2 linked regions of the Homo sapiens genome follow. Each later gene encodes a partner of the first gene's protein in a complex. Each region holds a gene or a part of one and is shown in the gene's direction. Other genes may lie near its edges.

The links. The genes of interacting proteins can lie anywhere in the genome.
Region 2: PRPF8 (region 1) and TXNL4A share a complex: the UniProt entries of both Homo sapiens proteins name them as parts of the U4/U6-U5 tri-snRNP complex.

The regions. Positions count from the first base shown.
Region 1 is NC_000017.11:1,657,244-1,660,892, reverse strand, and holds part of PRPF8 (pre-mRNA-processing-splicing factor 8), read left to right. Parts: intron 1-65; coding exon 66-195; intron 196-314; coding exon 315-461; intron 462-891; coding exon 892-1,052; intron 1,053-1,344; coding exon 1,345-1,536; intron 1,537-2,129; coding exon 2,130-2,367; intron 2,368-2,511; coding exon 2,512-2,640; intron 2,641-3,649. UniProt on the Homo sapiens protein: Plays a role in pre-mRNA splicing as core component of precatalytic, catalytic and postcatalytic spliceosomal complexes, both of the predominant U2-type spliceosome and the minor U12-type spliceosome.
Region 2 is NC_000018.10:79,975,016-79,978,664, reverse strand, and holds part of TXNL4A (thioredoxin-like protein 4A), read left to right. Parts: intron 1-963; coding exon 964-1,067; intron 1,068-1,877; exon of another isoform or gene 1,878-1,947; intron 1,948-3,649. UniProt on the Homo sapiens protein: Plays a role in pre-mRNA splicing as component of the U5 snRNP and U4/U6-U5 tri-snRNP complexes that are involved in spliceosome assembly, and as component of the precatalytic spliceosome (spliceosome B complex).

The DNA.
Region 1 (3,649 bases):
CAGGAGGTTAGCAGTGTGCTGGGAAATGGCAGGATATCACCTCACCTGCTTCTCTTGCTCCCCAGGGAGAAGGCCAGTGGCTTTGAGGAATCTATGAAGTGGAAGAAGCTAACTAATGCTCAGCGATCAGGACTGAACCAGATTCCCAATCGTAGATTCACCCTCTGGTGGTCCCCGACCATTAATCGAGCCAATGTGAGTGTGATTGACACTGGAGAGGGGAAGCTAAAGACAGTTGCTGCTTCTTGCCTTGGTTATGTCGTGAGCGCCCGAGTCTCTTGATCTCTAATGTCACATTGTCGTTTTCCTGGCAGGTATATGTAGGCTTTCAGGTGCAGCTAGACCTGACGGGTATCTTCATGCACGGCAAGATCCCCACGCTGAAGATCTCTCTCATCCAGATCTTCCGAGCTCACTTGTGGCAGAAGATCCATGAGAGCATTGTTATGGACTTATGTCAGGTGGGCTGGAATCGAGGGGAGAGGGTACTGTAGAGAGTCAGCTCAGGTGGAATTGAGGGGAGAGGGTACTGTACAGAGTCAGCTCAGGTGGAATCGAGGGGAGAGGGTACTGTACAGAGTCAGCTCAGGTGGAATCGTGGGGAGAGGGTACTGTAGAGAGTCAGCTCAGGTGGAATCGCAGGGAGAGGGTGCTGTACAGAGTCAGCTTAGGTGGAATCGCGGGGAGAGGGTGCTGTACAGAGTCAGCTCAGGTGGAATCGCGGGGAGAGCGTGCTGTACAGAGTCAGCTCAGCTTGCTCTTTTGCATATGGGAAATCCACCCTGGAAGCTCTGAGGATGAGACTCCTATTGCCTCATTATCTTATTGTACAAACTCTGATTTTAATTGGGCTTCCTTAACAAGTCTTAATCTCTCCATGTTTTCCTTCAGGTGTTTGACCAGGAACTTGATGCACTGGAAATTGAGACAGTACAAAAGGAGACAATCCATCCCCGAAAGTCATATAAGATGAACTCTTCCTGTGCAGATATCCTGCTCTTTGCCTCCTATAAGTGGAATGTCTCCCGGCCCTCATTGCTGGCTGACTCCAAGTAAGTGCCTCAGGACCCAGCCCTAGGCAGCCAGGACACTTTCGTTTTCCTGTTCTTCTAGCCCTGCAACTTTAGGAATTGTCCTGTCTGCCTTTGTTTCAAACTTGGAGCCAGTGCTACGCTTGGAGCCTGTCAACACCCTTAGTCAGATCTGCTGATTCTCTGGGGTCCTGCTGACCTGGAACAAGTTGGTGGAGTGGGTGGGATGGTTTTGGGATTTAAGTGGTTCTGGTTCTGGGGACATTGGTTATGCCCATGGTTTCTTAGAAGCTTGAACCCTCTTCATCCTCAGGGATGTGATGGACAGCACCACCACCCAGAAATACTGGATTGACATCCAGTTGCGCTGGGGGGACTATGATTCCCACGACATTGAGCGCTACGCCCGGGCCAAGTTCCTGGACTACACCACCGACAACATGAGTATCTACCCTTCGCCCACAGGTGTACTCATCGCCATTGACCTGGCCTATAACTTGCACAGGTGAGTTGAGGCTCAGGACCATGTATTTTCAGGCCAGGCGCAGTGGCTCACACCTGTAATCCCAGCACTTTGGGAGGCCGCGGTGGGCAGATTGTCTGAGCTCAGGAGTTTGAGACCAGTCTGGGCAACATGGTGAAACCCTGTCTCTACCAAAATACAAAAAATTAGCTGGGCGTGGTGGTCCACGCCTGTAGTCCCAGCTACTCAGAAGGTTGAGGTGGGAGAATTACTTGAACCCGGGAGGCGGAGCTTGCAGTGAACCGAGATTGCGCCACTGCACTCCAGCCTGGGCGACAGAGTGAGACTCCATCTCAAAGAAAAATAATAATAATAATAAATAAATAAATAATCCGTGTATTTTCCATTAGCTCCATACTTTAACGTAGTCATACTTTTTTACTTTACCTAAGTGAGAGGAAGTGGCCCATTCCTCCTATGGGTCACTGATTCTCTTCTCCAGCCTGTATGTACACATGAGCAGAGTGTTGTCAGCCTGGCGAACAGTCTTTCTTCCTCTGTAGAGTTGGCAGCTTGTCTTGTTTCTGGGGCTGTCATTCTCGTCTTAACTTTTCTTGACCCTTTTATCCTCACAGTGCCTATGGAAACTGGTTCCCAGGCAGCAAGCCTCTCATACAACAGGCCATGGCCAAGATCATGAAGGCAAACCCTGCCCTGTATGTGTTACGTGAACGGATCCGCAAGGGGCTACAGCTCTATTCATCTGAACCCACTGAGCCTTATTTGTCTTCTCAGAACTATGGTGAGCTCTTCTCCAACCAGATTATCTGGTTTGTGGATGACACCAACGTCTACAGAGTGACTATTCACAAGGTGAGTGTTAGCAGCAGTGTATAGGTGCGGGACTCTGTACATGGCTGTGGGAGAGTAATGGGCTAAGTGTGTACACATGCTGGGAAGAAGGCAGGATGGGGATGTGTTGTGTAGGCCATGCTAACGAATGCCGTCCTCCTCTAGACCTTTGAAGGGAACTTGACAACCAAGCCCATCAACGGAGCCATCTTCATCTTCAACCCACGCACAGGGCAGCTGTTCCTCAAGATAATCCACACGTCCGTGTGGGCGGGACAGAAGCGTTTGGGGCAGGTGAGCAGGTTTAAAGATGAAGAGGCTGTAGAACCATGTTGCCTCTTATTCTTGGGGTGGACTTGGTAATATTTACTGGTTTATTAGATGAAAGGCTGAGAACATCTCATTTGAACTTATCCCCAAAATACCTTGGGAAGTATTCTGTGGGAGGTCCAAGAGTGTATGAGGTGCTTCGTTCCCTTCCAGCTGGTCTGTTTCCTGAATTTCTAACCTTGAACAGGGCTATCAAAAATCATTTTTCCAAAGGCAACGCATACTCTTTTTTTTTTTTTTTTTTTTTAGCCGGAGTCTCGCTGTGTGGCCCAGGCTGGAGCACAGTGGCTCAATCTCGGTTCACTGCAAGCTCCGCCTCCCGGGTTCACGCCATTCTCCTGCCTTAGCCTCCCGAGTAGCTGGGACTACAGGCGCCCGCCACCACGCCTGGCTAATTTTTTTTGTATTTTTTAGTAGAGACAGGGTTTCAACGTGTTAGCCAGGATGGTCTCGATCTCCTGACTTTGTGATCTGCCTGCCTCTGCCTCTGCCTCCCAAAGTGCTCGGATTACAGGTGTGAGCCACTGCTCCTGGCCAGCAATGCATATTCTCTTTTTTTTTTTTTTTTTTTGAGACGGAGTCTTGCTCTGTTGCCCAGGCTGGAATGCAGTGGCCTGATTTCAGCTCACTGCAAGCTCCGCCTCCCAGGTTCACGCCATTCTCCTGCCTCAGCCTCCCGAGTAGCTGGGACTACAGGTGCCCGCCACCACGCCCGGCTAAATTTTTTGTATTTTTAGTAGAGACGGGGTTTCACCATGTTGGCCAGGATGGTCTCAATCTCCTGACCTCGTGATCCGCCCGCCTTGGCCTCTCAAAGTGCTGGGATTACAGGCTTGAGCCACCGTGCCCGGCCCAGCAACGCATATTCTTGAAACATCCACTTTGACCAAATCTCTTCTCTACCTCACAACTCTTGCTGAATTAACTCTTCTTTAGCTTCCTAGACGTTCAACATCTGGCTGGGCTGTATCTG
Region 2 (3,649 bases), on another chromosome or scaffold:
AAAATTAGCCAGGTGTGATGGTACGTGCCTGTAGTCCCGGCTGCTTGGGAGGCGGAGATGGGAGGATCGCTTGAGCCCAGGAGGCAGAGGTTGCAGTGAGCCAAGATCTTGCCACTGCACTCCAGCCTGGGCAGCAGAACCAGATCCTGTCTCTGGAAAAAAGATAGCAGCAGTCACCCCTAGGTGTTGGGATTGGAGGTGATCTTATTTTCTTTTTATTTTTCTGACTTTTCTAAATCTCTGATAAACTTGCAATTAAAGAAAAAATAACAGAAAATGTGTTATATGCAGTATTATTGGAGGTACTATTAATATTTGCAAGTGTTCAGACCTAATTGCGGGGAAATGATGGCAGGATTCTACAGGTATATTTTAGAGCAGTTGTGAGATGCATGTAACTATTTGTAAAGGTTCATACAGATGATTACTAGATCAGCATAAATAATATGTCTGTGGACGTTTTCTGCAGGACTTTGATAACTTGTTACCTGAGTGAAATTTAATTCCTGGGCGATTCTGGGAGATGGTAAAGTGAGGCGGAAGGAGCCAGCGGCCAATTCCTGAACTATTCTGGGAAACGGTGGCGTGAGGCGGAAGGAGCCGGTGGCCAAGGTCCCAGTAGTGTCACATGATCTTCCCGCGTGTTTGCTGCACTGGGAAAAAATGTTGAAGAATTAGTTTGAAAATTGCCCCGTTGGCCAGGAGTGATGGCTCACTCCTATAATCCCAGCACTTTGGGAGGCTGAGGTGGGAGGATAGCTTGAGCCTGGGAGGTCGAGGCTGCAGTGAGCTGATTGCACCATTGCACTCTAGGATGACAGAGTGAGACCCTGTCTCAAAAAAACAAAACAAAAATTGCCCTGATCCACACAAATTCTTGGTTTTGTTTTTATAAATGTGCTTCTATAAAATGAAAGCCAAAGTGTTCTGTTATTTCAGTTTTTTTTTTTAATCTCCTTTTAGGTTAAAAATTTTGCAGTTATTTATCTTGTGGATATTACAGAAGTGCCTGACTTCAACAAAATGTATGAGTTATACGATCCATGTACTGTCATGTTTTTCTTCAGGTACGTTATCTTAAAGTTGTTACTGAAATTGAATATTGTCAGTTTGGAAGCTTAATGTAATCAAGATCTCTTTAGATTATTTTATTTTGAAGGAAGTTGGTTGTACAGTCATGTCCCAAAATCGTTTGTATCACCAGGCAATCAGTGTGAATCTTTGAAATAATTTTCAAAGTAACAATTCTAGTTTTAGCATTTACTCAGTAACAAATTACCCTTTTGAAATAACTTTGCGGGGAAACCTAGGTGAAGTGTAATTCAATGAAAGATGTTGTTACTGACATTTTAGATACCTGGAACTATAATCTGTTCATCAAAAATGTTGTAAAATCACAAATTTAGGCCGGGCACAGTGGCTCAAAGCGCCTGTAATCCCAGCACTTTGGGAGGCCGAGGTGGGTGGATCACAAGGTCAGGAGTTCGAGACCAGCTGGGCTAAGATGGTGAAACCGAGTCTCTACTAAAAATACAAAATTAGCCGGGCGTGGTGGTGCATACCTGTAATCCCAGCTACTGGGAGGCTGAGGCAGGAGAATCACTTGTACCCAGGAGGTGGAGGTTGCAGTTAGCCGAGATCATGCCATTGCACTCCAGCCTAGGCAACAAGAGCAAAACTCCGTCTCAAAAAAAAAAATCAAAAACCTAATTTATTAAATATGTTATCATCAACTTCGGTGTCCTTTTTTATATCCAAGAGGAACACCTGAACTACTTTGCTTATAAATACAAGATTATTTTATCAGCTCAAAAATTTCATTATGGAAATTTAATGGGGAAAGAAATCACCATCTGATGCTGTTTTTACTTGTTTAGTTACCATAGAGGTTGGTGAATTAGCTACATGAGCATTAGACCATTCTCCAAAAGTGGAGCCTCCTACTCGGTAAGGAAGGTCAGGTGGGTTGTATAGGGTATGCGTTAGTTTTGTATTCTTTGTAACAAATTAGCACGCATTGAGCAGCTTAAATCACCCCGCTTTTCTGAGCTCACAGTTCTGTAAGTCAGACATCCAGGCAGGGCCCGCTGGATTCCTGCTCAGGGTCTCACAAGGTCTGAACCATGGGCTGGGTGCTTATCTGGAGTGTTTGAGGGGCTTGTTTGGGTTGTGGGCCGAGTCTGGCTCTTCGTGGTGGTGGGTCTGAGATCTGCTTCCTTGCTGCTGTTACCTGAGGCCACTCTGCTGCCAGAGACCCAGTTACCCTCAAAGCCAGCACTGGCATGCCGGCACATTGAGAACTTTTCACACAGGTTCTCTGACCTGAAAAGTTCTGCCTGAGAAAATGCTCTGGTTTTAGAGGACTGTGATAAGATTAGACTTGCCCAAATAATCCAGGATAGTGACCTTGTTTTATTTATTTATTGAGATGGAGTCTCACTCTCACCCAGGGTGGAGTGCAGTGGCACCATCACAGCAAGCTTGAACTCCTGGCTTCGAGCCATCCTCCCGCCTCAGGCTGCCAAAGCGTGAGGCACTGCCGTGGTTCTGGGCGTCGGGATACGCTCCCCTGGACACGCCCTTGGCTTCCTAGGTGCCTCCTGTTAGGTTGAGAAGATCTGTGAGGTGCACCCTGCATTTCTTGTGAACTTTTCATCTTTCCTAGGTTTCAGCAAAGGTTGCGTGGCTGACCCTCATCCTTTTCTCTACTGTGTGTTCAGCAGCCATTTCTGAATTTCAGCCCCTTTGGCCATCCGGAGAGGCTAAAGAATTTATTCCTTTTGTTAACAGTTCTTACACTAATTTGCCTCTTTCCTCTCTTGAAGGCAGCACCTCCGAGACTTTGCTTGGAAGTTTCCGCAGCTAAATATCCCGAGTGTGTTGCTTTTGAGCTCTGACTTCCTATAACTGCGGACCCCGTGTCCCTGTTCCTCGGCCACTCTGTAACGGGGGTCCCCTTTTCTCCGTTTCCCAGTAACACACTCCTCACTTCCTTCCAAGCCCACACCAGGTGTTCCTGAAGTCCATATTTCTGTTAACAGCCTGTTCGAGGCAATAGAGGCCTTTTCTATTTTGCCCCTCAGAATTCTTCAGGTGAGAACAGGGAGGGCCGTCTTAGGTCTCTGCCCCCCACAGCGTGCAGTGGAGGCCAGCCTGGGGCTGGAGATGCTGTGAGGGGCAAGGAGGCTGCAGGCAACAGCCTTGGGTGGCGGGAGCAGCCTACTTAGTGTAGTTTGATATTTTTAGGACTGATGCTGTACTCAGAAAAGGAGATGAAACTTCCTTCTGCTGTTTCTGTGATTTAGAATTTTAAGACAAACGGTACTTTAGTTAACTTATGCACCAAACATATATCTTGAGCCCCCACCAGGTTTGTGGTCTAGTGGTGGAGCCTAATGTCAGATAAGACAGGATTCCCACTCTCATAGGACGTTGTCTGATAGAAACAGCTGAGTAAATTAGCAGGGGGTTCTGAAGAAGTGAAAGGAGGCAGATGTTTATGAGATATAAATACCGAAGAAGTACACCCAGGTCAGATAGGGCTGCAGGGAGGGTGCTACGGGCAGCCCCCAGTCATTGTAGAAGGAGCTTGGTGCATGCTGCATGTAGGGCCTGCCTGCAGCATGGAGAATGAGAGGGCGGCCAGAGG